Linked DNA regions of Homo sapiens: region 2 is linked to region 1. Evidence: fine-mapped expression QTL. A gene starts in region 1. The other region holds a variant in brackets. All regions are shown on one strand. Distances are between the middles of the regions.

Region 1 (11,897 bases):
GCACTCCAGCCTGAGCAAGAGTGAGACTCTGTCTCAAAAAAAAAAAAAAAACAAAAACACTAACAGAGTGCTGTTTTTTCAGCTCTCATCGTTGTATCCCAGTTCCATCTTTTTTTTTTTTTTTTTTTTTTTTTTAAATAGAGGTGGGGTTTTGTCCTGTTGCACGGGCTGGTCTCTAACTCTTGGACACAAGTGATCCTCCTGCCTCGGCCTCCCAAAGTGCTGGGTTCACAGGCGTGAGCCACCAACGCCTGGCCGCATCTACAACTCTTGTTTTTGAGATAGAGTCTCACTCTGTCACCCAGACTGGAGTGCAGTGGCGTGACCTTGGCTCACTGCAGCCTCCGCCTCCCGGGTTCCAGTGATTCTCCTGCTTCAGCCTCCTGGGTGGCTGGGATTACAGGCATGTGCCACCACGCCTGGCTGATTTTTGTATTTTCAGTAGAGATGGGGCTTTGCCATGTCAGCCAGGCTGTCCTCAAACTCCTGATCCGCCCCCTCGGCTTCCCAAAGTGCTGGGATTACAGGCATGAGCCACTGTGCCCGGCCTGCAACTCTTAATTCACCCATTTGTGGAACTTCTCTCCCTCTTGGGTCCTTTTTCTTTTGAACCACACAGGTGTTCTACCTTCATTCTTTTTCTTCTCTATTTTTTTCTGGGGCATCTCATCCTCTTTCACAACTTGAATTACACCTTCTGGGGTTAAACTATTTCTGTTTGGTTCTAATCCCAACTTCTATGCTATAATCAGGTTACCTGCTACCAATTTCCTCCAAATCCCACCAACTCTCTTTGTATAAAATAGAATTGATAATCTTACATACACATATACTTGCCTCTCTTCCCTGACTTACCCATTCCTTTTTAAAAACAGGCACTTCATCTACTCAGCCACCTGGGCTGGAAACCAGTGTTCTCTAGTTCTGTTCCTTTCCATTCTCTGCATATCTGGTCACTCAGTTCAGAATATTCTGTCTTTTAAAAAAGTGCCTGAAAGTTGGGCAAGGTGGCTCATACTTGTAGTCCCACCTACTCAGAAGGCTGAGACAGGAGGATCCTTTTGAGCCTAAGAGTTCAAGGCTAGAGTGAGCTGTGGTTGCACCACTACACTCTAGCCTGGTGACAGAGCAAGACACTGTCTCAAAAACAAAACAAAACTTCTGAAGTGATCTCTCCATTCCCATTCACTCTATTCATCATTATTGCATTCTGCTACCCAGTCTATTTCCTAAATATTTTTGCTGCCACTTAATTTTATCCTTCCAAAACATGCGATGGGTTTTATCTCTCACTACTCCCTGTTTAAGAAAACAGTGCCGGCCGGGCATGGTGCCTCATGCCTGTAATCCCAGCACTTTGGGATTTGGCCGAGGTGGGTGGATCATGAGGTCAGGAGTTCGAGACCAGCCCAACCAACATGGTGAAACCTCATCTCTTAAAAATACAAAAATTAGCCGGGCGTGGTGGCAGTTGCCTGTAATCCCAGCTACTCAGGAGGCTGAGGCAGGAGAACTGCTTGAACCCAAGAGGTGGAGGTTACAGTGAGCCGATACTGCACCACTGCACTCCAGCCTGGGTGACAGAGCAAGACTCCGTCTCAAAAAAAGAAAAAACATTGCCTAAACTGTTTTTCATACTTCCTCAACACTCATTAGTGTGGACCATGCAATCAATTTAGGGAGTTAAACCATTCTTTTTTTTTTTTTTTAGATAGGGTTTCGCTCTTGTTGCCCAGGCTGGAGTGCAATGGCACAATCTCAGCTCATTGCAACCTCCGCATCCCGGGTTCAAGCAATTCTCCTGCCTCAACCTCACAAGTAGCTGGGATAACAGGCATGCACCACCATGCCTAATTTTGTACTTTTAGTAGAGGGGGTTTCTCCATGTTGGTCAGGCTGGTCTCGAACTCCTGGCCTCAGGTGATCTACCCACCTCGGCCTCCCAAAGTGCTGGTATTACAGGCATGAGCCACCGCACCCAGCCTAAACCATTCTTAAAAAAATAATAATAATAAAATAAAATAAAAAAAGTAGGCCGGGTGGAGTGGCTCATGCCTGTAATCCCAGCACTTTGGGAGGCTTTGGCGGGCAGATCACTTGAGGTTGGGAGTTAGAGACCAGCCAGGCCAATATGATGAAACGCTGTCTCTACTAAAAATAAAAAAATAAAAAATAGCTGGGTGTGGTGGCAGGCACCTGTAATCTCAGCTACTCAGAAGGCTGAGACAGGAGAATCACTTGAACCCAGGAGGTGGAGGCTGCGCTGAGTGGAGATCATGCCACTGCACTCCAGCTCGGTTGATGGAGTGAGACTCTGTCTCAAAAAAAAAAAAAAAGTAGAATAGAATAAAAATTATCAGACTGAGGCTGAGTTTAATGGCTCATGCCTGTAATCCCATCACTTTGAGAGGCCGACGTGGGCGGAATCACCTGAGGTCAGGAGTTCAAGACCAACCTGACCAACATGGTGAAACCCCATCTCTACTAAAAATACAAAAAATTAGCCGGGTGTGGTGGCGGGCACCTGTAATCCCAGCCACTTGGGAGGCTGAGGCAGGAGAATTGCTTGAACCCGGGAAGTGGAGGTTGCAGTAAGCCGATAGCACCATTGCACTCTAACCTGGTTGACAAGAGCAAGGCTCCATCTCAAAAAAAAAAAAAAAAAAAATCAGACTGCATGGCACTTAGAATAGGAAGTTTAAAGAGATTAAGTCATGCTTTGTCACCCAGGCTGGAGTGCAGTGGCACAATCGTAGCTCACTGCACCCTCCATCTCCTGGGCTCAAGCAGTCCTCCCGCCTCAGCCTCCCAAGCAGCTGGAATTACAGGCGTGAGCCACCATGCCTGGCCTAATTTTTTTTTTTTTTTTTTGAGATGGAGTCTTGCTCTGTTGCCCAGGCTGGAGTGCAGTGGAGCACGATTTTAGCTCACTGCAATCTCTGTCTCCTGGGTTCAAGCGATTTCCAGCTAATTTTTGTATTTTCAGTAGAGACAGAGTTTCACCATGTTGGCCAGGCTGGTCAGGAACTCCTGACCTCAAGTAATCCACCCTCCTTGGCCTCCCGAAGTGCTAGGATTACAAGAGTAAGCCACCGTGCCCAGCCCTAATTTTTTTTTTTTTTTTTTTTTGAGACGGAGTCTTGCTCTGTCGCCGATGGTGCCATCTCAGCTCACTGCAACCTCTGCCTCCCGGGTTCAAGTGATTATCCTGCCTCAGCCTCCTAAGTAGCTGGGATTACAGGCGCGTGCCACCATGCCCAGCTAATTTTTGTGTTTTTAGTAGAGGCGGGGTTTCACCATGTTGGCCAGGCTGGTCTTGAACTCCTAACCTCAGGTGATCCACCGCCTCAGCCTTCCAAGGTGCTGGGATTACAGGCGTGAGCCACCACACCCGGCCAACCCTAATTTTTAAATTTTTTGTAGATGGGGGGGTCTCCTCATCTTGTCCAGGCTGGTCTAGAACTCCTGAACTCAAGTGATTCTCCTGCCTTGGCCTCCTAAAGTGCTGTGATTACAGACGTGAGCCACCACACCCAGCTAAAAGTATTCTTTTAGGTAACTTGTTTTAAATAAGTTGTGTGTGTATGTGTATCTGCACATACTGGGTTGCACTATGGAATTATTTCTTATTGTGAGTTGTAGGAAAATGGTTGAAAGCCACTGCTTTAGACACCTTCACAATGCTCAGCTAGGTAACAAAAGATCTGTAGACAGTGGCCTGCTGTGTACTTTGCCAGATACATTTCCCACGACCCTCCTACAGCAGCATTACTATACCTTTTCCCGGTCTAAAAGGGTGCTATCTTCAAAGGACCGTTTTTCCCCTCCCCCTTTAAAAAAGAAAGCTAGGAGGAGGCAGTATAGTGTTGTAATGAGCCAGACTGCTTGGGGTTGAGATCCTAGCTTTGTTTTTATGTAGCTGTATGACTTTAGACAAATTATTTAATCTATCAGTGCTTATTTCATTTGTAAAATGAAAATAATAGTACTTTTCTCATAGGACTGTTAAGGAGATTAAATGAATTAATATCTGTAAAGTACCTAAAACATTGCTGGGAGTGTAGTAACTGCTGTTATCTAAGAGGCCTTATTTATTCTTTTTTTTTTTTTTTTTTTTTTTTGAGACAAGAGTTTCGCTCTTGTTGCCCAGGCTGGAGTGCAATGGCACAATCTTGGCTCACTGCAATCTCTGCCTCCCGGGTTCAAGTGATTCTCCTGCCTCAGTGTCACGAGTAGCTGGGATTACAGGCATGCACCACCATGCCCAGATAATTTTGTATTTTTTAGTAGAGACGGGGTTTCTCCATGTCGGTCAGGCTGGTCTCGAACTCCCAGCCTCAGGTGATCCGCCCGCCTTTGCCTCCCAAAGTGCTGGGACTACAGGCTTGAGCCACTGCGCCTGCCCTAAGAGGCCTTATTCTAAAGTCAAAAGAACAACCTGGATTTGAGTTCCCCAGCTCCATAATTAACTGGCTGTTATTTTGGGTCAGTCTTAACTACTCTCCTCATCTGTAAAAATGGGGGTGGTCTGGCCAGGCGCGGTGGCTCACGCCTGTAATCCCAGCACTTTGGGAGGCCGAGGTGGGTGGATCACCTGAGGTCAGGAGTTCGAGACCAGCCTGGCAAACCTGGTGAAACTCCATCTCTACTAAAAATACAAAAATTAGCTGGGCGTGGTGGTGGGCACCTGTAATCCCAGCTACTCGTGAGGCTGAGGCAGGAGAATCACTTGAACCCTGGAGGCAGAGGTTGCAGTGAGCCGAGATCATGCCATTGCACTCCAGCCTGGTGACAGAGCGAGACTCCGTCTCAAAAAAAAAAAAAAAAAAAAAATGGGTATGGTTCAACATGCATTGAGTGCTGGCATTGTGCTTCTAGACTGTGAACTTGAGGTTGGGGCCATTTTCTCTGAGTCCCCAGCACCTTGCATAATGCGATATAGGGTGTACAATAAACATGTGTTGAATTTATAAATATTTAGCATCTGCCTTATGCCTATAATTGATTAGTACTGTGATACAAAGATGAAAAATGAAACAGGTATGTAATAAGTGCTACAATAAGGATGTCGACAAATGCAACGGTAGCAAGAAAGACAAAAACAGGACTAACCATTGGGTTTGGTCAGATGATTTCATAAGCAAAAAGTCTACCACTAGTGGAGAGTGGGGCCACCAGTCAGATTATAGTGAAATATAAGTGGTCGTGTTGCATAAAGCATCAGTCTCTCTCTCTCTCTCTCTCTCTCCCTCCGTCCCTCCCTCCCTCCCTCCATCTCTCTCTCTCTCTCTCTTTCTTTTTTTTTGAAACAGTTTCACTCTTGTTGCCCAAGCTGGAGTGCAATGGCGCAATATCGGCTCACTGCAACCTCCGCCTCCCAGGTTCAAGCAATTCTCCTGCCTCAGCCTCCCGAATAGCTGGGATTACAGGCACCCACCACCACACCCGGCTAATTTTTGTATTTTTAGTAGAGATGGGGTTTCACCAAGTTGACCAGGCTGGTCTCCAACTCCTCATGTCTGGTGATCCACCTGCCTCGGCCTCCCAAAGTGCTGGGATTACAGATGTGCGCCTCGGTGCCTGGCCACATCAGTCTTTTTTTTTTTTTTTTGAGACGAAGTCTCGCTCTGTCGCCCAGGCTGGAGTGCAGTGGCACAATCTCGGCTCACTGCAACCTCCGCCTCCCGGGTTCAAACGATTCTCATGCCTCAGCCCAACGTTAGATTGGTTTTTCCGAGCCTGTGAACTCCATGGGGTCGCCAGATAAACGCAATCCCGGTGGACCAACGCCCAGGACAGACGCTACGTACCAACCCTGTGTCAAGCCGCAGGCAGCGGTTCCGGACTCTGGGACTTAACCTAACGTGGCGGGGCGGGACTTCCGGCGGGAGGCGGAGGCGGAGGCGCAGGCGCTGGCTGGCAGGTGTCGCTAACCGGACGGTGGTCGCCAGGGCGAGAGGCGGGAGCCGGAGAGGTGAGGCAGGACCCGGGCTCCACTGCCGCCTCTCCGAGCTCTTGTGACGCGGACCTCAGTGCCAGGATGGCTCGGGGCGAGCGGCGGCGCCGCGCAGTGCCGGCAGAGGGAGTGCGGACAGCCGAGAGGGCGGCTCGGGGAGGCCCCGGGCGACGGGACGGCCGGGGCGGCGGGCCGCGTAGCACGGCTGGAGGAGTGGCTCTGGCCGTCGTGGTCCTGTCTTTGGCCCTGGGTATGTCGGGGCGCTGGGTGCTGGCGTGGTACCGTGCGCGGCGGGCGGTCACGCTGCACTCCGCGCCTCCTGTGTTGCCTGCCGACTCCTCCAGCCCCGCCGTGGCCCCGGACCTCTTCTGGGGAACCTACCGCCCTCACGTCTACTTCGGCATGAAGACCCGCAGCCCGAAGCCCCTCCTCACCGGTAACCGGGCCCCAGGGCGGGCAGGCAGGCGGACTCCTAATCTGGGCGCCCCAGCTTGAAGCGAGAGCAAGGGTGGGAAGGAATGGATCAGGAGAGTTATGAAGAGGGATGACCCGGAGACCCGGAGGGACAGGTCCCCTGCTCTTTGACTTACGTGGCCATTCTACCCCCAGGACTGATGTGGGCGCAGCAGGGCACCACCCCGGGGACTCCTAAGCTCAGGCACACGTGTGAGCAGGGGGACGGTGTGGGTCCCTATGGCTGGGAGTTCCACGACGGCCTCTCCTTCGGGCGCCAACACATCCAGGATGGGGCCTTAAGGCTCACCACTGAGTTCGTCAAGAGGCCTGGGGGTCAGCACGGAGGGGACTGGAGCTGGAGAGTGACTGTAGAGCCTCAGGTCAGGGCCTCAGGACACCCTTTTCTCAGCCCAGACCCCCTCCATCCTTCCCTTGCTGCCAGCAAATGCAGCATGAAGTGGGCTCTGGCTGCCTGGCTTAAATCCTGCCTTAAACAACTGCCTGTATAACCATTTCTATTTACCATCTCTAAGCCTTGATTTCCTTGCTTGTAAAATGTACAATGTAGATAATAATAGCACTTAACTCACAGGACTGTAAGAATTAAATGAAAAAGAGGCTGGGCGCGGTGGCTCACGCCTGTAATCCCAGTACTTTGGGAGGCCGAGGCTGGCGGATCACCTGAGGTCAGGAGTTCCAGACCAGCCTGACCAAAATGGAGAAACACCGTCTCTACTGAAAATATAAAATTAGCCGGGCGTGGTGGCGCATGCCTGTGATCCAAGCTACTTGGGAGGCTGAGGCAGGAGAATTGCTTGAACCAGGGAGGTGGAGGTTGCGCTGAGCCGAGATCGTGCCATTGCACTCCAGCCTGGGCAACAAGAGCAAAACTCCATCTCAAGAAAAAAAAAAAAGCCAGGCGCGGTGGCTCACGCCTGTAATCCCAGCACTTTGGGAGGCTGAGGCGGGCGGATCATGAGGTCAGGAGATGGAGACCATCCTGGCTAACACGGTGAAACCCGGTCTCTACTAAAAATACAAAAAATTAGCTGGGCGTGGTGGCGGGCGCCTATTGTCGCAGCTACTCGGGAGGCTGAGGCAGGAGAATGGCGTGAACCTGGGAGGCGGAGCTTGCAGTGAGCTGAGATCGCGCCACTGCACTCCAGCCTGGGCGACAGAGCGAGACTCCGCCTCAAAAAAAAAAAAAAAAAAAAAGAATTAAATGAAATCAACTGTGTAGAGTTCTTAGTGTAGGACATAGTACAAAAGTATACTGTTATCTCCCAGGGCACCCAGTGCAAGGCTCTTTATCTCATCCCGCTTGGGTGTACCTGGTTACCCTCAGTGACCCTCATTACTGCCAGACGTATGTTGTTTACATTACCCCTGCCTACTGTTCCTTTCCCTCACTAAGGCTGATTCTCAAGAGGGAATTCAAGAGAGAATGCCAATCTAACACTGTTCTTTTCTGTCCTCGTTGGTCACTCAGGACTCAGGTACTTCTGCCCTCCCTTTGGTCTCCCTGTTCTTCTATGTGGTGACAGATGGCAAGGAAGTCCTACTACCAGAGGTTGGGGCCAAGGGGCAGTTGAAGTTTATCAGTGGGCACACCAGTGAACTTGGTGACTTCCGCTTTACACTTTTGCCACCAACCAGTCCAGGGGATACAGCCCCCAAGTATGGCAGGTAACTGGGGGAAAAGAATGTTGGGGGATGGAAGGGGTGGTTATTCCCATTTTCACCAGTCTCCATGTCCCCTGCCTGAGACCTCCCAACCTGACTCCTGAACACTTTGTATTTCTCTTTATAATGCCCACTGCCTTCTCTTGAATAATATTTCCTATTTATCTTCTCCCCTTCAAGCTACAATGTCTTCTGGACCTCCAACCCAGGACTGCCCCTGCTGACAGAGATGGTAAAGAGTCGCCTAAATAGCTGGTTTCAGCATCGGCCCCCAGGGGCCCCCCCTGAACGCTACCTCGGCTTGCCAGGATCCCTGAAGTGGGAGGACAGAGGTCCAAGTGGGCAAGGGCAGGGGCAGTTCTTGATACAGCAGGTGACCCTGAAAATTCCCATTTCCATAGAGTTTGTGTTTGAATCAGGCAGTGCCCAGGCAGGAGGAAATCAAGCCCTGCCAAGACTGGCAGGCAGTCTACTGACCCAGGCCCTGGAGAGCCATGCTGAAGGCTTTAGAGAGCGCTTTGAGAAGACCTTCCAGCTGAAGGAGAAGGGCCTGAGCTCTGGCGAGCAGGTTTTGGGTCAGGCTGCCCTCAGCGGCCTCCTTGGTGGAATTGGCTACTTCTACGGACAAGGGCTGGTATTGCCAGACATCGGGGTGGAAGGGTCTGAGCAGAAGGTGGACCCAGCCCTCTTTCCACCCGTACCTCTTTTTACAGCAGTGCCCTCCCGGTCATTCTTCCCACGAGGCTTCCTTTGGGATGAAGGCTTTCACCAGCTGGTGGTTCAGCGGTGGGATCCCTCCCTCACCCGGGAAGCCCTTGGCCACTGGCTGGGGCTGCTAAATGCTGATGGCTGGATTGGGAGGGAGCAGATACTGGGGGATGAGGCCCGAGCCCGGGTGCCTCCAGAATTCCTAGTACAACGAGCAGTCCACGCCAACCCCCCAACCCTACTTTTGCCTGTAGCCCATATGCTAGAGGTTGGTGACCCTGACGACTTGGCTTTCCTCCGAAAGGCCTTGCCCCGCCTGCATGCCTGGTTTTCCTGGCTCCATCAGAGCCAGGCAGGCCCACTGCCACTATCTTACCGCTGGCGGGGACGGGACCCTGCCTTACCAACCTTACTGAACCCCAAGACCCTACCCTCTGGGCTGGATGACTACCCCCGGGCTTCACACCCTTCAGTAACCGAGCGGCACCTGGACCTGCGATGTTGGGTGGCACTGGGTGCCCGTGTGCTGACGCGGCTGGCAGAGCATCTGGGTGAGGCTGAGGTAGCTGCTGAGCTGGGCCCACTGGCTGCCTCACTGGAGGCAGCAGAGAGCCTGGATGAGCTGCACTGGGCCCCAGAGCTAGGAGTCTTTGCAGACTTTGGGAACCACACAAAAGCAGTACAGCTGAAGCCCAGGCCCCCTCAGGGGCTCGTTCGGGTGGTGGGTCGGCCCCAACCTCAACTGCAGTATGTAGATGCTCTTGGCTATGTCAGTCTTTTTCCCTTGCTGCTGCGACTGCTGGACCCCACCTCATCCCGCCTTGGGCCCCTGCTGGACATTCTAGCCGACAGCCGCCATCTCTGGAGCCCCTTTGGTTTACGCTCCCTTGCAGCCTCCAGCTCCTTTTATGGCCAGCGCAATTCAGAGCATGATCCCCCCTACTGGCGGGGTGCTGTGTGGCTCAATGTCAACTACCTGGCTTTGGGAGCACTCCACCACTATGGGCATCTGGAGGGTCCTCACCAGGCTCGGGCTGCCAAACTCCACGGTGAGCTCCGTGCCAACGTGGTAGGCAATGTATGGCGCCAGTACCAGGCTACAGGCTTTCTTTGGGAGCAGTACAGTGACCGCGATGGGCGAGGCATGGGCTGCCGCCCTTTCCACGGCTGGACCAGCCTTGTCTTACTGGCCATGGCTGAAGACTACTGAAGGGAGGGAGAGGAGGGGAGCCAAGACACTCATGCCACTCTGGCTCTGAAGGGACAAAGGCTTCTGGCTTTTGCCCCCAGCCCCTTGGATACCAGTAATTCAAACCTTCCTCATTTCATCTCAGGTGTCTCCTTGCTGTCATCCCACATAGCCCTGGGGTGAATGTGAATCCAGAGTCTATTTTTCTAAATAAATTGGAAAAAACATTTTGAACTCTATTGCTTTTGCCAGATTTGCCTCACCAAGAGGCCTTAGGTCAGTCCAGGCCTCAGCACTGTCTGCTGTCCTCAGGGAAGGTGGGGTCAAGTGGCCATAACCTGTCCCCTTCAAACCCAGTCAGGTCAAGTGCAATGCAGTGAGTTGAGCTTTAGTCCACCCAAATCCACAAGTAGCTGGTTCACATCTCTTTAATGAGATCAAAGGCTCCTGTGTATGTCCTGCGGGGGTAAAGCTAGCACAGTCCCCCAATACTGCCCCTCTCCAGCCCTTTCAGGCAGATTCTAGGTAGGCAGGGAGGGGCCAAAGGAACGCAAGGAGTTGGGACTAGGGCTGTTTCTGGTGGGCAAGTAACCCATCCACCCTCTCAAAACTACTTATGGGATGTCCCCTTCACTGGAAGACAGCCCCATGGGAAAGATCTGCGGTACAGACTCTGGGGGTAGTGCACACGGGGAGTAGTCCTCCAGATCTGGCAGGGTGGCACTAACCCTCACCTCCTTGACTGGCTCACCCTCACCGGAGGCAGGACAAGGGCAGAGCTCAATACCGGAGTCGCCAGTTAAACGGCGATAGCGGCAGGAGGGGGGTGTGGAGGCAGGGGTCACCCCTGCCCCGGGCTCACCCTCCTGATGAGGGGGGGCACTCTGGTGGGAGGAAACACCTTCCACATTTGTTCCTTCAAAGTGGGCAGGGCAGCTGGATGAGGAGGAACAGCAGGTTTGTTCACTGGAAGCAGTCAAGGGGCGGCCTGGGGCCACAGTATAAGGGGGGGGTGGTGTGCCTGGGCGGTGAACCACATCCTCGTAGGCTGGGGGCTTGAAGGTGCTGAGGAAGCCTGCAGGGGAGAAAATTGGCATGATTGGTTGAAGACAACCAGGTATAGGGTGCTAGTTTTTATATTAGGGAAAAATACTTTGAAATGTGTGGAAAAGGGAATGTGAGACGATTTGGGGTTCTGGTTTGGGGAGGGCCACTGGTAGCTGACCCAGGGCATCAAGTCACTCACGAAGGTCAAGCAGTGAACCGGTAGGGAAAGGACCAGCCCCATGGCATGCCCCATGATAGGCCAACAAGTTGATTTCACGCTGCCGCTGCTGTTGTTGCAGCCTGAGTTTAGCTCGTCGGTGGCGGAAGGCGCAACAGCAGCTAAAGAGGATGAGGACAGTCCAGAGCAGCCAGAACCCTGCAAGAGGCAAGGAGGGAGCAACTCAGGCATCTTTCATGCAGAGAAGGGGCCCTGAAGGCCGAAATTCTGAGGTCCAAGGGAGGGTGGACACAGGGACCTGGAAATAGCCCTCTTGGAGACTTACACCAGAGCTCATAGTAGTAGGTGCAGCAGCCAGTCTCCCCGCAGCAGTGACCACTCTCACAGAGGTAGGGCTGGTTGTTCACTCCTGGGCACAGCTCTCGAAGCTGCGGGCAAGGAGGCACTTAGAACTAAGGGGGATTCCAGCCCAGGGCACTGTCCACCCCCACCTCCTGCATGCACATACACAATCCCACCCTGTGAACCAAGTTCAGCTTGGAGAGATGGGGGAAGTGGAGGATGCTGAGAGGAGTGTTGAAATATCTGAAGGGCTGTCAACGTGGAAGAGGATTTGGAATAGCAAGAATCAGTCTAGAGAACAAGACAAAAGTGTGGACATACAAAGAGGGAGATTTCAG
Region 2 (11,897 bases), 94 kb before region 1:
GGCTGGAGTGCAGTGGTGTGATCTCGGCTCACTGCAACCTCCACCTCCCGGGTTCAAGTGATTCTCCTGCCTCAGCCTCCTGAGTAGCTGGGATTACAGGCATACACCACCATGCCTGGCTAATGTTTTTGTATTTTTATTAGAGACCGGGTTTCACCATGTTGGCCAGACTGGTCTCAAACTCCTAACCTCAGTTGATCTGCCCGCCTCAGCTTCCCAAAGTGCTGGCATTACAGGCGTGAGCCACTGTGCCTGGCCTGAATAAATTCTTAATAGACAAAAAATTCACAAGTAAATGCACGAATCAATGTAAAAATAGAAGATTTAAAATAATACTAATAATCCAAATCCTGAGCCCCATCAGAAGTTACTTAAGCCAACTGAAATGGAGTCCCCTGAAACTTCCTGGTTTCTATCCCTTCCAGGCTTAAACAGGCCATGTCCTCAGAGCAGGGGCAGGTCCAACCCACAATCCACATACACACACACCATGATTTGTATACCATTTATTTCCAACATGATGGATTTTAAGCATCAAGCTGACTTTCCTGCACATTTGGATTTGTTCTTCAGGAAGACAGCACATCTCTAGATAGAAGCAAAATGCTAAGAAAGCATGAACTTCTGAAGGCACGCATAAAGCTCTTGGCACAGTACCTGGTGCCTGATAAGCATTCCTTTAAAGTTTGTAATTATGATTATGACTAATTTTCCCATGCCCAAATCATCTGTCCCACCCCCAAAACCTTCTAGTGAGGATGCATCATGCCTCCCGAATTATCAGTCAAGTCCTACCCCACAAAGAGGTCAGCAACCGCAGGAATGGTACATACCTGTTTTTCTTGGAGCTGTTAACAGGTTTCCTACCACTTGCTGTGCCTACCAGACCTCCTCAGAGCTCCGCACTGCACAGAATGATGACACTGCTTTAAAGTGCAGAGCCTCCCCTACACCCACCCCAGCATGTGTCCCGTGGGGTCTAACTCTCATGCTACAGCAAGTGTTTTCTGTCTCACTGTGTCACTTTCTATTTGTCTTCCACAAGACACTGATAATCCTCTTTCCTCTAAAAATCTTTTCCCCCTTTTTGCCTTTCCTCTTTTATTATTTGTCTCAACTTTTCATATAAGAGTAGCCAGAACTCATGTGTTTTCTTCTATCTTATGTAGCAGGGAGGTTGTTACGGTTTGTACCAGATGTAACTGAAGATCACCCCCAGTAAGAGGACACAGTTTGAGATGATTATGATAGTTCTAACTCCATATTTCCTGGAGTTTTGTGTTTTTTGTTGAAAAGCTACCACAAAAAAAATTGCCTCATTTTCATGGCTCATTTAAAAGGGTACATCTACAAAATCTTCTCAGAAGTCTGGTTGTCTCTTCTTCTTACCCATGCCCTAACCTCTGCCATCACCATGGCACATGGCAAAGTGCCACCCTCTGTTCCATAATAACCCATCATCCACAGAGGCACTGCCCCCAGAATCCTGACTCTTCTTGTCCTGTGATTGGCTGAGATGATCTCAAGGGCCCTGCACCCACCCACCTCTCCCTCTGCTCTTTCTTTATGTTTTTTTTTTTTTTTTTTTTTATGTTTTGAGACAGAGTTTCGCTCTTATTGCCCAGGCTGTAGTGCAATGGTGCAATCTCAGCTCACTGCAACCTCCACCTCCCAGGTACAAGCAATTCTCCTATCTCAGCCTCCCAAGTAGCTCGGATTACAGGCATGCGCCACCACGTCCAGCTAATTTTTTTGTATTTAGTAGAGATGGAGTTTCACCATGTTAGTCAGGCTGGTCGAGAACTCCTGACCTCAGGTGATCCACCCGCCTCAGCCTCCCAAAGTGCTGGATTACAGGTGTGTGCCACCGCTCCCGGCCCTGCTCTCTCTTTCTCCTCCCACTTTGCAGGCTGCTTTCACTGCCTTCTCTCTATCTGTCTGTCTATCTATCAATCATCTATCTATCTTTATTTATTTAATTTTTTGTAGAGTCTTGGTATGTTGCACAGACTGGTCTTGAACTCCTGGGTTCAAGCAGTCTTCCTGGCTTGGCCTCCCAAAGTGCTGGGATTACAGATGTGAGCCACCACATCTGGCCTTACTACCTTGTACCCTCTCTGGACATTCCAGGGATACTGCCCAGTCAGCCCATTCTAATCCCAGTTGTTAGCAAACAACCAGACTTTATTACCCTCAAAAGAAGAACTGAATTTCTACAACAGACAACACCCCATACAAGTCTTGGTTTCAAGACACTGCTTTTTTCTTTTTCCTTTTGAGACAGAGAGGGTCTCACTCTGTCACCCAGGCTGGAGTGCAGTGGTACAATCATGGCTCACTGAAGCCTTGATCTGCTAGGCTCAAGGAATCCTCCCACCTCACCCTCCTGAGTAGCTACGGGTACAGTCACGCACCATGGGCTTCAAGACTCTGTTTTTAAGAATTATAATTCTTAAAAGTCCACATGTATGCTGAATGTGGTAGGCCCCTCTGGGATGAACACCTACTTCAAGTTACAGGGAATTTCTTAACTTTTCTCTCCATTGTTGACCCTTTTATATACTCTCTCTGGCATATCTCAAACCAGGGAGGAAGAGTAGTACATTGTGATATTGATGATTCATGCAGGAAGTCCCTCCCTACCAGGGCCGAAGTTAAATGGCTCTGCCCTCCTCAGCACCCCTGGAAGTCAGGGAAACTTCAATTGGGACTGATCCTCAAACCATGCCATAGACTAAAGATGAACCAGTATTTCTGTATGTCCTTGTTTCAGAAAAGGGAATGGCTGCTGTTAGCCAAGGGGGAACCACCGGGCCCAGGACACAGCCAGAGAATTCCTGCCAGCACCTTCTATGTGATCATGCCGTCACACTCCCTCACACTGCTGGTAAAGGCGGTGGCCACGCGGGAACTGATGCTGCCCAGCACCTTCCCCCTGCTACCTGAGGACCCACATGATGATAGCCTTAAGAATGTGGAGGCAAGTGGAGCCCAGATCTCATGGGACAGATCTAGAAGCGAATGGAGTTTGAGAAAGGGATGAGGGAGAGGAGTGAGCCCATGAGGGAATGGATGCGGAGCTGAAGGAGTGTGGTAAGAGAGTAAGAAGAGAAAGCAAGGATAGGCAATTATGCCAGAAGAAGGAAGTAAACACTTAGATTATGGCAGCAGGGTAAGGAGTGAAATAGAATGGAGGGAAATGAGGTTTGAGAACAAAAAACTGGGAGAGAAAAGGGATATTGGCATCAGTGATGACTGGGAATTAGAGCCATCCTGGAGGACACACGACATGCACACGGACCTGAAATCTGAGGAATGGGTGGCTGTGAAGGAGAAAAGGGAGCATCACAGAGTGGAAACCTGATGTCAGGCCAGGGCACAGGGAGGCAGGGGAGGAAGCCACAACACCAGCAGGTCCAGCTCCTGGGGATGCACTGGACGCTTGTTTGGTTTGGTTTTGTCTTTGCGCAGACTGGTTCTCCTGCCCCCACCTCCTCCCCAGAGAGGAGATTGTGAAGTTAGACAAGGGAGAGCAGAACTTTGGGAGGGAAAGGAAAGAAGACACAGTGGAAAGCAGAAGAAAAAAGAAGGGAGAAGGGAATAAAAGGAGACCCAAAAAATCAGCCTTTGTATGGGTTTTCGTGTCTTTGTGTGTTTTTGTGCCCGAGTGTGTCTGTGGTTGGGTCTCTAAATTGGTGGCAGTGGGTGTAGATGCGCCTGTGCACATCTGTGTGCTGGTGTGTTCTTAGGGGTCTGTCTGCATTGCACGTGTGCATATGTGTATACCTGTGTTTGCGCTCATTTATGTTTGTTGAGAAAAGGCAGCCAATGTAGGTGCCCAAAATAGGAAGGGCTTCAAGATGAGATGTGATAGATGCAGATGCAGAGGAGCAAACAACTCTGAAAGCCATTTTTACCTCCTTCTTTTTCTTCTTCTCCTCCTCCTCCTCCTCCTCCTCCTCCTTCTCCTCCTCCTCCTTCTCCTCCTCCTCCTCCTTCTCCTCCTCCTCCTTCTCCTCCTCCTCCTTCTCCTCCTCCTCCTTCTCCTCCTCCTTCTCCTCCTCCTCCTTCTCCTCCTCCTCCTTCTCCTCCTCCTCCTTCTCCTTCTCCTCCTCCTCCTCCTCCTCCTCCTCCCCTCCTCCTCCACCTGTTTCTCCTCCTTCTCCTTTTCCTCTTCCTGGGATCTGGATTCTCTATATTTGCTCTGCTAGTCTCCCCAGGCTAAGAGTGGGAGGGCTGGCTCTGGGTAGGGAGAACTGGAACCACGTCGCTGCTGGCTCGCTAGCTTAAATGCAGCAAGGACAAGGCCTGGGATTGTGCTCTTGGCTTGGCGGCCACAGAGACACAGAGAGAGGTGGGCACAAGTGGCCATGGCCTGCTCAGTGTCTCACTTTGGGGCCAGTGGTTCCTGGCACAGGATGTTGTGGCCGGAAAACCTGACTGCACAGGAATGTTGTGCTCCTGTATCCCCTCCTCCCTTTCCATTCAGCTCAGCTCACCTCTAGGCTGAGAACTCCATGTACTCGCCTTGCAGGCTGTGAGCACCCTGCCCTGCAGGGTAGCCCACTGACACACCCTCCCTCCATGCTCACAGTGGATCCCTTGTAGCATTCATGTGCGCCGGCCCCCTCAGAACCCCTGGACATGCATCTTGGGGCCAGAGTGTTCAGTGTTCCTAACCACTTAGGGTTGTTCCTACTTCTCCTATCCATGCCTGGCCCTTACATCACAAGCACTGGACCTCAGGCCAGAACACCCAGGGGGACAGCATCTATTTCACAGCCTTCATGGCAGCCCTGGGGTTTCACACTTCCTCCAGCCCCTCACACTCCTGGATCGCTACCTGACATCTTGTGTTCTGTGATCTTAAGTTCCCTAGTGAGGCCCCTCCTCTCTTTTCCTCAGAGCATGCTGGACAGCCTGGAGCTGGAGCCCACCTACAACCCCTTGCATGTTCAAAGCCACCTGTACTCACACCTGAGCAGCATCTATGCCAAGCCTCAGGGGCGGCTCCACCCACACTGGGAGAGCCGAGCTCCGAGAAAGGTACCGCTCCCCTCCTTCCCTCCTCTTCCTTACTTCCCCTCCCTCCCCTTCATGCCCAGAGTCCTAGAAAACCCTCCTCCCCCATCCCAACACCGCCCCCATCCAAGGGAGTAGCCTTCCTCCAGGATCCACCCCTGGTGGAGGGGAAAATTAGAACCCTTACTGGGTAGGGAGGCCTGTTTGCTAGGGCATTTACATATAATAATGTTCAGGTGTTTTAATTGTAGTGTTTATGATAGCTCATTAAACAGACCATTGTCCCATTAAGCAAACTGGCTACACAGGAACTATAACCACAGTCCTCGTGAAAGAAAAGGCTGAAGGAAAGGTGGGAAAAGAAATGCCCAAGGGATGGGAAATTAATATTTATAGAGCACCAGTCATTTGCCAGGTTTTATGATAAGTGCTTGCTTATATGTTTTTCTCATTTAATCCTCACAGCATCCCTGCAAGGTAAGTGTTTGCTCATTTACAGATGAGGAAAGGAGGCTGACCAAGATTAGTAACTTGAGAGGACTCCCATGACTATCTGGGGTTGAAGACAGTTGGGGTTGAAGAGGGAAGAGTGATTGAGGATAGAGAAATATTTTTATGAAACCCGTGTTCTATATAATATTTGGGCTTCCTTTTGCCCTTATTAACTTTTTCTCAGTTTCTTAGTAACACAGCCTTTAGAAAAATTCTCATTTTAGGCCGGGCACGGTGGCTTATGCCTATAATTCCGGCACTTTGGAAGGCCGAGGCAGGTGGATCGCTTGAGCTCAGGAGTTTGAGACCAGCCTGGGCAACATGGCAAAACCTCGTCTCTACAAAAATACAAAAAAAATTAGCCAGGAGTGGTAGTGCACACTGTAGTCCCAGCTACTTGGGAGGCTAAGGTCGGGGGATTGCTTGAGCCCAGGAGGTCAAGGCTGCAGTGAGCCAAGATTGTGCCACTGCACTCCAGCTTGGGTAACAG[AGC/C]AAGATCCTGTCAAAAAAAAAAAAAATTCATTTTGTCTTAGCTAAAATTACAGAAGGACGTTTCCAAACCAGAGGTAGGAGCAGAGGCTACCACAAGTTAGCTGCTAGGCAAGCTGCCAGAGGTAGGACACCAGGCAAGGAGACAGGCACTGTGGAGGCTGGGCTTAAGGGACTCCAGATCACTGTCCTCGGCCTTGAGGCTGTCACTCCAGGGAATGAACTTAGGAAAGAGTTAGGACAGGAAGCCCAACAGAGAATGGGATAGGTGCTCAGAAACTCTGATCTTCAGAGAAGGCTCTGGTTGCTCTCTTTGCAGACTGGGCAGTTGCAGACCAACCGAGCTCGAGCTACTGTGGCCCCCCTGCCTATGACTCCTGTCCCAGGCAGAGCCTCCAAGATGCCAGCAGCCAGCAAATCTTCCTCAGATGCCTTCTTCCTGCCTTCAGAGTGGGAGAAGGATCCCTCAAGGCCCTAAGTCACCAGCACCAGAGCCCAGCTGCCCAGCTTAACCATATCCATGCTCAGGTTCACATAATGGCTATCTGTGGTCAGACTTGCTCTCTATCCGCCTGAGCCTCTGTGAGTGAGGGCTGACTGGGAAACAACAGCCTTCCTGTCCTGTTTCAGTGCTGTCCCACTCCTCAAGTCTGGAAGCGACACACCCGAGCCTGTCCTTTCTCCAGCAAGGACTTTCATTTTCTTTAGAATCATTTGCTACTGTTTACACAGGTGAAGATTAAACACCCAGTAAGCTTCTACCATTGTTAGGAGCATTCATAACTCAGAATTTCTTCTTGTAGCTCTGTGTAAGCAGGTGGATGAGGTCAGATCACCTTTGGTAAACTGGACCTCAGGAACAAGGATGAGGTTTTGAAAGCTCATAAAAGACAAGTAAGATTGAAATCCAAGCCTCATTTCAGAGCCTGTGCCCTTCCCACTACACCACCAGGCTTCAGCCTCCAAAGAGACAAGTGCTTGGTACCTACATGCAAAGTGTGTGTGCTGGGGGGTGGGAGGGCTGCCCAGAACAGGGGAGAGGATGGTGTAAAAAAAGACCTACTCCTTTCCTGTTACCCTCTCCCCACATGTACCAACCTTCCTGTTGCTCCCTCCATCCACAGAATAATAGCTACCATTTATAAAATGTTTACTCTGGGCTGGGAGCAGTGGCTCACACCTGTAATCCCAACACTTTGAGAGGCTGAGGTGGGATGATCACTTGAGGCCAGGAGTTCGAGACCAGCCTGAGCAACACTGTGAGACCCCCCCGCCATCTCTACATAAATAATAAAAACTTTTAAAAAAACACCCTGTGCTTCAGATTACACTAAATACTTATAATGTATCTAATTTCATACAAAAAGCCCTGTGAGGTAGAGCCCATTATAGCTTTTCCATTTTACAGAGGGGCACAGGGGAAACTGAGGGTTGCAGATGTTATCACCCAGGGCCACAGAGCTCACATCTAGCCCAGGGCAGCTTGACTTGACTCCCCAGGCACTGAACCGCCACACTTCTGTTCCCTTCCTGGGCCCCTTGCCTCTCCGTGACTCTCAACACATTCCTGGTTCTCCTCTTGATCCCCACCACACCCAACCCAACCACTGTGTCCCCTCTTTTTCTCTTCACACACATAAACTTCTTAAACCCAAGCTGACTTTAATGAGAATTTTAAAATTTTTAAATAGGTCTCTGGCAAAGAACAATGCAGGAGTAAGGATCCAGGCACAGTCCAACATCTCCCTGAGGCCTCCACACAGGCCCCTCAAACTGCACCCATTCTGACCATGCACCACTTTCCACAGACCTGGTCCCACAGCCGTCCCTTCATTTGGGGAAGTAGGGAAGGGATGGCTTTGGGGGATGCAGAGCCCATCCTCAGCCCTGCCATCTGCCCCACTTCTTAGGACTTCCTGGGATTGTCCTTCCCTTGACTCTCCCATCCCTCTGGTCCCCTGGTCTCACACAGCATGGCCCCTCCCACCCTCTGGCTTCTGCTGGTTCTAACCATCTTCTTTGATCCCTAGTGCCACCTCCCCATGGTCCCCCTTAGCCACCTCAGCCTTGCCGTCCTTCTCAGGTAGAGCCCTCTGACTTGACCCCAGTCTTGTCAGTCCCTACTCTAGAGAGCCCACAGTCCCAGCTCCCTGAGGCCCCGCTCTTCTGGACCTGGCTGTACAGGGCTGAGTTGTGGCTTTTGATGCCACTGCCAGTTGCAGTACCAGGTTCAGGGAAGGCTGGGCCCTGGGGCTTGGGAGCAAGGAGGGGCTTTGTGCTCCGAGGGGGTGGCACAGCGTAGTCATCAGTGGCAGGGTTGTAGGGGAGCTCATAGCCCTCCTCCTTCACCCGAGCTTGGCACCACCATGCATCCTTGGGCTCCCGAGGCAGATCATAAAGGCCCTGGGGAGGGACTGGGGCCAGGCCCTCAGGTTCATCATAGATGGGATCCTCTTTGGGGTCTGTCAGCTTGGCCTTCAGCAACTGCTGCTGCGCATGCTCATACAAGTCCCAATAGAGAGGTTTCTTCCGTTGTACTCCCTCTCCTGCCTGAGCAGACGTGCTGTCCAAGGGGTCTGAGTATAGGGAGTCCTGGGAAGGGCATGGAGCAATGCGCAGGGAGTCTAAGGGCTCAGCATACAGGGCTGGGGGACTGTCGAGGAGCTCTTGGGGGCCAGGTGGGGAAGGCAACTTCCCCTCTGCCACCTCCCCTTCATGGGAGTCAGCTCTGAGAACATCGTGCCCCTGTCCGGCCTTTCCCTGGGCCTTCTGCCGGTGGATGGCAGTCTCAACTGCCTGGAAGATGTCATTTCCCTGTGCCGTCTGGAAGGTGAAGGTTCCAGGGCCTGAGGGGCAGCGGCGGCCGGCCTCGAAAGAGAACATGACCTAAGGAGGGTAGAGGGGGAAACACATTACCAGGAGCCATCAGAGGAAGTGAGTCACACGCCTGCACTAGTTAGGGTATCTACAAAGAAGAGACCACCTGCGAACAGACGCGGGGTCACCGGGTAGGCAAGAAAGGGGGATCCAAAGGTCAGAGCTTCCCACTTTCTGTCCTGCCCCACCCCTCCCACAGCTGCCCAACCCAGGAAGCCCTCCCGGACAGCCCCTGCACCTTGTCCCGGCCATAGCGACGCAACAGAGTGTAGGGCCAGGACAGGAGTGGCTCCAGTATCTGACTCTGGGCCCCCACGGTCAGGAGAGTCAGCCTTTCAGCCTCCACCCTCAGCACGTAGGAGCCATGCAGGCCACAGCGCTCGGCGGCCTCAGTCCTCTGCACCGTTACCCAGAATTGGGATCCTGGAAGGCATACACGATTAGACAGCTGCGGGGGAGGGACGGGGGCAGCAGTGGGGACCCAGAGGACTCATGAGCATAGTGTCCAAGCACTCACTCGGAAGCCAGATCTCAGGGCCTTCCTACTTCTTACTTCCCCATGGGCCCCTGGGTATCCACCCACTTCCCAAAGGCCCTCGGCCCTCCTCCTCTTCACTCCATCCCTGCCCGGGCTTCTGAGGCGTCTACCTTCCCAGGTAGGGCTGTACAAGGAGTTCTCCAGCATCTCCAGGGCAGAAAGCTTAGGTGGGTTATCGGTAGGCGCCAGAGTCCAGCTGCCTTTCTGTAGTAGAGAGCATCGAGAAACCCGTAATTTCCTCAGCGGGGAGCGGGGGTCGGTCTGAGGCAGCCCCATTTCTCTGCCTCTGTAACTGCCCCCACCCCGCATCGCCGCAGCTCCTCACCGGAAAGGCGTTTCGGCACAGCGTCTGCACCCAGGCTGCACTGGACGGCGCGTCGGCCGCCAGCAGGTGCGAGCGCTGAGCAGTGTCCAGGCGGAAGGCAGTGGCGCCGGGCTCAGGGGGGGTCTCCACGGTGACGGGGGCCACACTCACACACTCAGCCAGACGGATCACTTTGCAGTCCAGGCGGCGCGAGCTCCCTCGGCCACCCCCAGAGCTCGACCCCTTATGGTCAAAGAACTCGAGCCGCGCTACGCCGTGGGGACTGGCCGGGTAGAGCACGGCCCAGGTCTTCCTCCACCTCTAGGGAGAGAGAGAGAGTGCTCGAGAGGGAGTGGCGTGCGCAGGCGGCCCGGGTCCCGACGGGGAAGGAGGTTGCGGCGCAAGTCGATTTGGGATCTGGGGCTTCCAAACGGGGTTGGGGGCGAAGTTTCCCAAGGACGATGCCACTCCGTCTCCCCAGGACCAGAACCCCTAGACTACAGACGCTTCCCGGGAGTGTGCAAAGCAACTTCACGGGAAAGTCACAGGCTCTCCAACTCCCGGCGCCGCTCTCCAGCCCGCTGCCCACCTCTCCCTGTTTCTGGGCTCTCTCACCCACTACTAGCCCGGATAAGGTTCGGCATCCATGCGCCAGACTACCTTGGTCCCAAAGCGCTGACTCTGCAAAAAAAGCGGCCCTTCCATCACTGCTCCGTCCATGGCCCCCGGCGGTTCCTTCCGCGCTTCCTGGCCCTGCGGCGGGAGGCGGGGCGGGAGGCGGGGCCGGGTTCCCTGGAGGAGTTTCCGCCCCTCCCCGGCCCCCGCCGGCAGCCGCTGGGGGGGTCGCGGTGGGGTGAGGGAGAGGAGCGAGAAGGAATGGTGGAGACCCCCGGATTAGCCGGGAGCTGCAGCACCCCAGGCCCCTACCCGCCGTCGTGGGGGCGCGCCAGTGGCTCCACCGAAAGTCCTCGGTTTTGGCGCGAGGGCCCTGGCCTCTGGGCGTGGTGGCTGCGCGTGACGTCATATGCCCAAGGTGACGTCAGAGTGAAAGCCATGACATCACCCCGAAAGCGCCCCGGGCACCGGAGAGACCCACACGGGCCTCCGGGGCTTTATTTACCCTGGCCGGGCCCGCCCCCAGCCCCGCCCGAGCCGGGCTGTTTAGACTCCGCTGGCCCGGGACTCGGAGGGAGGGCTGGGGTTGAACCGCTTCCCGCCACCACCGGGGCCGCCCCGCCGCCCGGCCGCCGCTTGCATGTCAGCTCCCTGACCGCAGAGGCCTGGCCTCCATGCCGCGGGAAGAGAAAGCTTCATTGAACGAGCCGGGAGGGCCAGGGAGGGGGAGGGGGCGCGGCAGTGGCCAGCTCCACGGGGAGGGAGGACCCAGAGGAGGAGAGGAGGGAACTGGCCGGGAGGAATGGAAGGAGAAGGCGGAATGTGGGAGGGCTCAGGGGGATGTGGGAGGGACGAACGGAGAAGGGGGAGAGAGGGGGGTCCAGTCTCCCCTGGCCGAGCATTTTTTTTTTTTTTTGGAAGTCCTAGGACTGATCTCCAGGACCAGCACTCTTCTCCCAGCCCTTAGGGTCCTGCTCGGCCAAGGTAGGGGGAGTCACGCTAACCGCAGAGGGAATGAGTAGGGGATGGAGAGGATGTGGAGGGACCAGGGAAAACGGGTGGTGTGGGATGGAGTCGAGGGGAAGCCACCCAACTGAGAGTTTGATTCTTGTCAAAGGGCAAGTGAGACAGAGTACACGGAGGAGGCACATACCGGAGGCGGGGGCTACGGGTGTTCGAACAGGGCCGCCAGGAGCGCCCTAAGGGAGGGGGCTCCTCCGGGAGGCGCTGCCCCTGGGTCCCCAACCCAGAACAAAGCTGCCTTGTTGGATTGATTGTTTGGGTTGGGGGAAGCATGTTGACGGGGGCTTGCTGTAGAGGGGCTGTTCTCAGCCCTAGGCAGAGAAGGCCTTGGCTGAGGAGCCATAGCGCCTGGCCTCCCGTTGCCCGGTGACAGGGATGGTGGTGTTGGCAGGAGGCTGGGACAACCCTACCCCATCCCCCGCCCAGCCTTGAGGCCTGGCCCTCCTGGGCCTCTTGACCCTGCAGGGCATCTGAGAGCCTGCGTGTTGGGGAGGGCGTGCAGCAGGTTCTCCAGGCGAGCTTTGGTGCCAGCCTTCC

Alleles and levels. Positions count from the first base shown, and alleles are read on the strand shown. Sizes are in standard deviations (SD) of each study's normalised expression.
In carriers of allele C in region 2, the expression in whole blood of the gene that starts at base 5,906 in region 1 tends to be lower than with AGC alone (moderate effect, 0.47 SD a copy in GTEx).

The links.
Region 2: its variant is fine-mapped to the expression of MOGS in whole blood (GTEx, PIP 0.97).

The regions. Positions count from the first base shown.
Region 1 is chr2:74,459,391-74,471,287 of GRCh38, reverse strand. MOGS (mannosyl-oligosaccharide glucosidase) reads left to right here and starts at 5,906. Exons shown (of 4, transcript NM_006302.3): 1 at 5,906-6,392; 2 at 6,566-6,792; 3 at 7,902-8,098; 4 at 8,276-10,231. The coding sequence starts at 6,041. The coding sequence ends at 10,013. WBP1 (WW domain binding protein 1) reads right to left here. Exons shown (of 4, transcript NM_012477.4): 2 at 11,543-11,645; 3 at 11,239-11,415; 4 at 10,407-11,067. The coding sequence ends at 10,607. It overlaps INO80B-WBP1 (INO80B-WBP1 readthrough (NMD candidate)), which reads right to left. Exons shown (of 8, transcript NR_037849.1): 6 at 11,543-11,645; 7 at 11,239-11,415; 8 at 10,397-11,067. RefSeq lists silencers at 3,632-3,926, 6,120-6,339.
Region 2 is chr2:74,553,300-74,565,196 of GRCh38, reverse strand. DOK1 (docking protein 1) reads right to left here and starts at 10,477. Exons shown (of 5, transcript NM_001381.5): 1 at 10,383-10,477; 2 at 9,744-10,043; 3 at 9,529-9,622; 4 at 9,119-9,303; 5 at 7,646-8,889. The coding sequence starts at 10,442. The coding sequence ends at 8,083. It overlaps M1AP (meiosis 1 associated protein), which reads left to right. Exons shown (of 11, transcript NM_001321739.2): 8 at 2,774-2,980; 9 at 4,906-5,046; 10 at 5,488-5,499; 11 at 6,323-7,314. The coding sequence ends at 6,481. LOXL3 (lysyl oxidase like 3) reads left to right here and starts at 11,255. Exons shown (of 14, transcript NM_032603.5): 1 at 11,255-11,321. RefSeq lists enhancers at 10,176-10,235, 9,860-10,377, 11,861-11,897 and silencers at 10,386-11,135, 11,861-11,897. The variant AGC/C (reference allele first, on the strand shown) is at 6,005.